Linked DNA regions of Homo sapiens. The protein of the gene in region 1 purifies or fractionates together with the protein of each later gene. This does not show direct contact. Each region holds a gene or a part of one and is shown in the gene's direction. Other genes may lie near its edges.

Region 1 (4,130 bases):
TTGTGATTCTCTTTGCAATTGTGAGGAAAAAGATGGCACAATGCTAATAAATTGTGAAGCAAAAGGTATCAAGATGGTATCTGAAATAAGTGTGCCACCATCACGACCTTTCCAACTAAGCTTATTAAATAACGGCTTGACGATGCTTCACACAAATGACTTTTCTGGGCTTACCAATGCTATTTCAATACACCTTGGATTTAACAATATTGCAGATATTGAGATAGGTGCATTTAATGGCCTTGGCCTCCTGAAACAACTTCATATCAATCACAATTCTTTAGAAATTCTTAAAGAGGATACTTTCCATGGACTGGAAAACCTGGAATTCCTGCAAGCAGATAACAATTTTATCACAGTGATTGAACCAAGTGCCTTTAGCAAGCTCAACAGACTCAAAGTGTTAATTTTAAATGACAATGCTATTGAGAGTCTTCCTCCAAACATCTTCCGATTTGTTCCTTTAACCCATCTAGATCTTCGTGGAAATCAATTACAAACATTGCCTTATGTTGGTTTTCTCGAACACATTGGCCGAATATTGGATCTTCAGTTGGAGGACAACAAATGGGCCTGCAATTGTGACTTATTGCAGTTAAAAACTTGGTTGGAGAACATGCCTCCACAGTCTATAATTGGTGATGTTGTCTGCAACAGCCCTCCATTTTTTAAAGGAAGTATACTCAGTAGACTAAAGAAGGAATCTATTTGCCCTACTCCACCAGTGTATGAAGAACATGAGGATCCTTCAGGATCATTACATCTGGCAGCAACATCTTCAATAAATGATAGTCGCATGTCAACTAAGACCACGTCCATTCTAAAACTACCCACCAAAGCACCAGGTTTGATACCTTATATTACAAAGCCATCCACTCAACTTCCAGGACCTTACTGCCCTATTCCTTGTAACTGCAAAGTCCTATCCCCATCAGGACTTCTAATACATTGTCAGGAGCGCAACATTGAAAGCTTATCAGATCTGAGACCTCCTCCGCAAAATCCTAGAAAGCTCATTCTAGCGGGAAATATTATTCACAGTTTAATGAAGTCTGATCTAGTGGAATATTTCACTTTGGAAATGCTTCACTTGGGAAACAATCGTATTGAAGTTCTTGAAGAAGGATCGTTTATGAACCTAACGAGATTACAAAAACTCTATCTAAATGGTAACCACCTGACCAAATTAAGTAAAGGCATGTTCCTTGGTCTCCATAATCTTGAATACTTATATCTTGAATACAATGCCATTAAGGAAATACTGCCAGGAACCTTTAATCCAATGCCTAAACTTAAAGTCCTGTATTTAAATAACAACCTCCTCCAAGTTTTACCACCACATATTTTTTCAGGGGTTCCTCTAACTAAGGTAAATCTTAAAACAAACCAGTTTACCCATCTACCTGTAAGTAATATTTTGGATGATCTTGATTTGCTAACCCAGATTGACCTTGAGGATAACCCCTGGGACTGCTCCTGTGACCTGGTTGGACTGCAGCAATGGATACAAAAGTTAAGCAAGAACACAGTGACAGATGACATCCTCTGCACTTCCCCCGGGCATCTCGACAAAAAGGAATTGAAAGCCCTAAATAGTGAAATTCTCTGTCCAGGTTTAGTAAATAACCCATCCATGCCAACACAGACTAGTTACCTTATGGTCACCACTCCTGCAACAACAACAAATACGGCTGATACTATTTTACGATCTCTTACGGACGCTGTGCCACTGTCTGTTCTAATATTGGGACTTCTGATTATGTTCATCACTATTGTTTTCTGTGCTGCAGGGATAGTGGTTCTTGTTCTTCACCGCAGGAGAAGATACAAAAAGAAACAAGTAGATGAGCAAATGAGAGACAACAGTCCTGTGCATCTTCAGTACAGCATGTATGGCCATAAAACCACTCATCACACTACTGAAAGACCCTCTGCCTCACTCTATGAACAGCACATGGTGAGCCCCATGGTTCATGTCTATAGAAGTCCATCCTTTGGTCCAAAGCATCTGGAAGAGGAAGAAGAGAGGAATGAGAAAGAAGGAAGTGATGCAAAACATCTCCAAAGAAGTCTTTTGGAACAGGAAAATCATTCACCACTCACAGGGTCAAATATGAAATACAAAACCACGAACCAATCAACAGAATTTTTATCCTTCCAAGATGCCAGCTCATTGTACAGAAACATTTTAGAAAAAGAAAGGGAACTTCAGCAACTGGGAATCACAGAATACCTAAGGAAAAACATTGCTCAGCTCCAGCCTGATATGGAGGCACATTATCCTGGAGCCCACGAAGAGCTGAAGTTAATGGAAACATTAATGTACTCACGTCCAAGGAAGGTATTAGTGGAACAGACAAAAAATGAGTATTTTGAACTTAAAGCTAATTTACATGCTGAACCTGACTATTTAGAAGTCCTGGAGCAGCAAACATAGATGGAGAGTTTGAGGGCTTTCGCAGAAATGCTGTGATTCTGTTTTAAGTCCATACCTTGTAAATAAGTGCCTTACGTGAGTGTGTCATCAATCAGAACCTAAGCACAGCAGTAAACTATGGGGAAAAAAAAAGAAGAAGAAAAAGAAACTCAGGGATCACTGGGAGAAGCCATGGCATTATCTTCAGGCAATTTAGTCTGTCCCAAATAAAATAAATCCTTGCATGTAAATCATTCAAGGATTATAGTAATATTTCATATACTGAAAAGTGTCTCATAGGAGTCCTCTTGCACATCTAAAAAGGCTGAACATTTAAGTATCCCGAATTTTCTTGAATTGCTTTCCCTATAGATTAATTACAATTGGATTTCATCATTTAAAAACCATACTTGTATATGTAGTTATAATATGTAAGGAATACATTGTTTATAACCAGTATGTACTTCAAAAATGTGTATTGTCAAACATACCTAACTTTCTTGCAATAAATGCAAAAGAAACTGGAACTTGACAATTATAAATAGTAATAGTGAAGAAAAAATAGAAAGGTTGCAATTATATAGGCCATGGGTGGCTCAAAACTTTGAACATTTGAGCTTAAACAAATGCCACTCTCATGCATTCTAAATTAAAAAGTTAAAATGATTAATAGTTCAGGTGGAAGAAATAAGCATACTTTTTGGGTTTTCTACACATTTTGTGTAGACAATTTTAATGTCAGTGCTGCTGTGAACTAAAGTATGTCATTTATGCTCAAAGTTTAATTCTTCTTCTTGGGATATTTTAAAAATGCTACTGAGATTCTGCTGTAAATATGACTAGAGAATATATTGGGTTTGCTTTATTTCATAGGCTTAATTCTTTGTAAATCTGAATGACCATAATAGAAATACATTTCTTGTGGCAAGTAATTCACAGTTGTAAAGTAAATAGGAAAAATTATTTTATTTTTATTGATGTACATTGATAGATGCCATAAATCAGTAGCAAAAGGCACTTCTAAAGGTAAGTGGTTTAAGTTGCCTCAAGAGAGGGACAATGTAGCTTTATTTTACAAGAAGGCATAGTTAGATTTCTATGAAATATTTATTCTGTACAGTTTTATATAGTTTTGGTTCACAAAAGTAATTATTCTTGGGTGCCTTTCAAGAAAATTAAAAATACTACTCACTACAATAAAACTAAAATGAAAACTCTTTTTTAAATGTGCTTTCTTAAATGCACGACAAGCTTTACTTGTCATGCAATCAAGTAAGGATTAACACACATACACACAAACATACAGACACACACACACACACACTGCAGGAGGTTTCTATTTGTTGTTTACACACAGAAGTATCTTGTTCATGTTGTGAAAAAGACTATTTGATTTTTGGTATGCTTAACAGGGAGCCAAATTTAAAGTATGTCTAGCAGTTTTCCCTTTCAAGCAAATCATTTTCTAATGCAACGTAAAAGGAAATGTTTTATTTCTATCGTTTCTAATTATAGAATCAATCATACCTGCACACTTTCACAAGGCAAAGTGAAATTAGTCAAGGTAATCTGGGAATGTTTTCTGAACACCACACAGAGTCATGTACTGGGCTATGAAGGAACACATTTTCCATAAGGAAGTACTCCCTTCAATTTACTCCACAATATTTCAGTGATTCTTAAATGGTCTATTAAATATTTTGGCTTTTAATAT
Region 2 (3,290 bases), on another chromosome or scaffold:
ACTTGGAGCCTCATCCCGGAGAAAGGGCTGCCGGAGGACGACCCGGACATCGTTGTGAAAGGTAGAGACCCCCCTCAGTGCACTCTGGAGGCCCCCAATCCCAACCCCCTAGGGATTAATGTCTCTACTGATGTCCCTTCCCTCCCTCTCCGGCCCCCAGGTTGGCTGTACCGGGAGCCCCGCGGAGGAGGGGCGCGGCCCTGGCTGCCCCCGCGCCGAGCCTGGTTTGTGCTCACGCGGGACTCCCTGGATCAGTTCAGCAGCAGCGGGAAAGGGGCGCGGCGTCTCGGGAGCCTCGTGCTCACCAGCCTGTGCTCGGTGACCGGCCCAGAGCGCAGGCGTAAGGAGACAGGTGAGACCTCCTGGGGACTCTCCTACCTTCCTAGGCAGGGGCCCCGGCAGACCCTAATGGCCCTCCCTGGCCTCTCTTTTCCCCAGGTCTGTGGTCAGTGACTGTGTCTGGTCGGAAACACAGTGTCCGCCTCTGCTCCCCACGCCAGGCAGAGGCTGAGCGCTGGGGGGTGGCATTGCGGGAAGTGATCGCCTCCAAGGCACCCCTGGAGACCCCCACCCAGCTACTGCTCAGGGACATACAGGTACACACCAGGGAGAGCCAGGAGAGTGGTGGACCCCAAAGCTTTCTGGGGTTGTGAGGAACTCCCTTCCCCATCAAGGTGACCCTCTCCCTGGCCCCCTAGGAAAGTTGCGGGGACCCAGAGGCCGTTGCCCTCATTTACCTGAGGAACCCGATTCTGAGACACACTAGTGGAGCCTTGTATGCCCCACTCCTGCCCCTGCCCTATGGAGTCAGCGCCCCAGGTGAGTGGTCCCATGGCCCAAGTCCCCTGGATGGGATGGGGTGGTTCAGAGGTAAGAATCTGAATCCCTTAACTGGCAGGGATCTAAGCATCCTTCATGGACCTGCCAGCTCCTCACTTTTCGAAGGATGAAGGTGAAACTGGAAGCTGGCCAGGGTGGAGGAGAGGAAGCCAGCACACACAAAAGGGCCCCCTTTGGCCACCTTCTCTATGGGTCTCATTCTGACTACTGATGTTCCTTCAGGAGTTTGTACACTCCCCTATTTTTTCATTATCCTCTTGAGACTATGCCATATTACCTTTACAAGTGGTAGAAAAGCTACCACTTTTGTAGAATGTGCTGGCCTCATCCAACTGTACTTCTCCCTAAACGGTGTAGTGACTGGCCCAGGTCCTAAAGTTAGAGGATTAAAGGGTGCTGGGAGAGGAACCCCGGTTTTCTGACTCCTAGTCCAGCCTGTTTTCTGACCTATGGTGGTGAGCCTCAGTATGGAGTTACAGAATCTGGGGTGTGAATCTACAGCCCTTCCCGGCCGTCCGTCTCCCTAAGTCCAAATGCAGGCTTAGTGGGATTGGGAAGGGGATTCCTGGGAGGCAGAGGTTGAGAGTCTGGCTCCGTGGGACCACTGCTTTCCCTTCACTCTTCCTGTCGTTCGTACCCTCCCCTCCCTGCCACCCCATCCCCTTATATTCCCTCTGACCTTCCCCTGGTTCATGCCTTCCTCCCAGGGCGCAGCTCTGTGTCCCCTCTCCAAACCGTCCCTCCGCCCCCACCCTCCCACAGGTCCGGGCTATGCACCCCTGCGCGAGGAGGCGGTGCGGCTGTTCTTGGCGCTGCAGGCGCTGGAGGGGGCGCGGCGCCCCGGGCCCTTGATGCAGGGTGTGCTCCAAACCTGCCGGGACTTGCCCGCGCTCCGGGATGAACTCTTCCTGCAGCTGGCTAAGCAGACCTCGGGCCCTGCAGGTCCCCCCGGGCTCCCGGCTACCCAAGACCCTGCGGCCCTGCGGTACTGGCAACTCCTCACCTGCATGAGCTGCACCTTCCGACCTGGGGGAGCTGTGCGGGGGCACCTCCTGGGGCACTTGGAGAGGTGAGAGGGGCGAGGTGGGGGTTACGGCCTAGGCGAGGAGCTACCGGGCTGGGAGAGAATGAAAGGTCTTTTGCAAAAGACTTGGTAGGTAAAGAACCGAGTAATACATACAGTGCCTTTGTGGGAGATACAAGATCCTATCGCAGTTGTGAGCGGATGAATTACAATAAAACGCCCCCCTTGGGCTGAGGAGTTATGAAAAGGCTGCTTTTCCTCCAGCTGATGCAGGCCAGCGCCAGGGCTTAGGAAAATGTAGTAAAGTGGCTGGATTTCGATTTCAGGCCGAAGGAAGATCACGAAGACTTTTGGAAGTGGTGGAGGCAGTTGGGAGAAAGCTGCCAGGGGACTTGAAAAGTAATTCAGCTCTATGCAAAGCACTGGGGAGAGATTTAGAAGAGCCTTCAAAGAACTTGAGTTGGGGCGGGGAGGAAATCGGCTAGATAAAATAAACTATAAGAGAAGCAGGCAAGAGGGAGGGGGAGAAGAAAGCCCTTGGAGTATTGATCCCTGGGTTCCTCCTAACCCAGGACCGAGCAGGCACTCCCGGACTCGGAACTGGCGGAATATGCGCGCTTCATCCGGAAAGCGCTGGGCCGGACGCGCGGCAGAGAGCTGGTGCCCTCGCTGGCGGAGATTTCCGCGTTGAGCCAACGGCAGGAGCTGCTGTGTACCGTGCACTGTCCGGGGGCTGGTGCCTGTGCTGTGGCCATCGACTCCCACACCACGGCGGGGGAGGTGAGGCCAGAGAAAGGCCCCATGACCTCCAACCCACCCTGCCAGCTTCTCACGCCTGTCTCTCCCTCTTCCTGGACCCTAGGTTTGCCCCGAGTCTAGATTATTTTGGTAAGGGAGGGAGTGGTGGTGACAGGACTAAGAGACCCCTTCCAATTGAATCAACCCCTCCCAGAATCCTGGCAAGACCTCTGAGTGGTCTCCCCTCACCCTCCTCTTCTAGGTGGCTCGAGAGCTGGTGGGGCGGCTGGGCTTGGCCCGGAGCCGCAACGCATTCGCGCTGTACGAGCAGCGAGGGGCCCAGGAGCGAGCCCTGGCTGGGGGGACCCTCGTGGCCGACGTGCTCACCAGGTTTGAGAAGTAAATGTCCAGCCCCAGCCCTGCTCTCTATTAGCCCATCCACTTCTCAGCTGAGGTCAGTCTCTAAGCGGACATTATCCAGCGCTTGCCCCTGGCCCTGCGCTGTGGTGTTCGCTGGTTTACAGACGGACCTGCCCGCCGCAGGTTTGCAGTCCGACTGCAGCATCACCTCCGCTGTCGGCTCCGCCCAGGCCCCGCCCCAAACACATGGCCCCGCCCCCACCCCAAGCTGCCCTCGCCGTAGGGGTCCGGCTTCTCCCTAGCGCTTCGTCCGCTCCTCTTCTGCAGC

The links. The genes of interacting proteins can lie anywhere in the genome.
Region 2: the proteins of SLITRK6 (region 1) and PLEKHH3 purify together in Homo sapiens (affinity purification with mass spectrometry; one large-scale study listed by BioGRID and IntAct). This does not show direct contact.

Annotation. Positions count from the first base shown.
Region 1 is NC_000013.11:85,792,290-85,796,419, reverse strand, and holds the end of SLITRK6 (SLIT and NTRK-like protein 6 precursor), read left to right. Parts: coding exon 1-2,437; 3' UTR 2,438-3,630; downstream 3,631-4,130. UniProt on the Homo sapiens protein: Regulator of neurite outgrowth required for normal hearing and vision.
Region 2 is NC_000017.11:42,670,705-42,673,994, reverse strand, and holds part of PLEKHH3 (pleckstrin homology domain-containing family H member 3 isoform 1 precursor), read left to right. Parts: coding exon 1-61; intron 62-160; coding exon 161-352; intron 353-438; coding exon 439-596; intron 597-698; coding exon 699-819; intron 820-1,602; coding exon 1,603-1,909; intron 1,910-2,436; coding exon 2,437-2,644; intron 2,645-2,864; coding exon 2,865-3,001; intron 3,002-3,289; coding exon 3,290-3,290.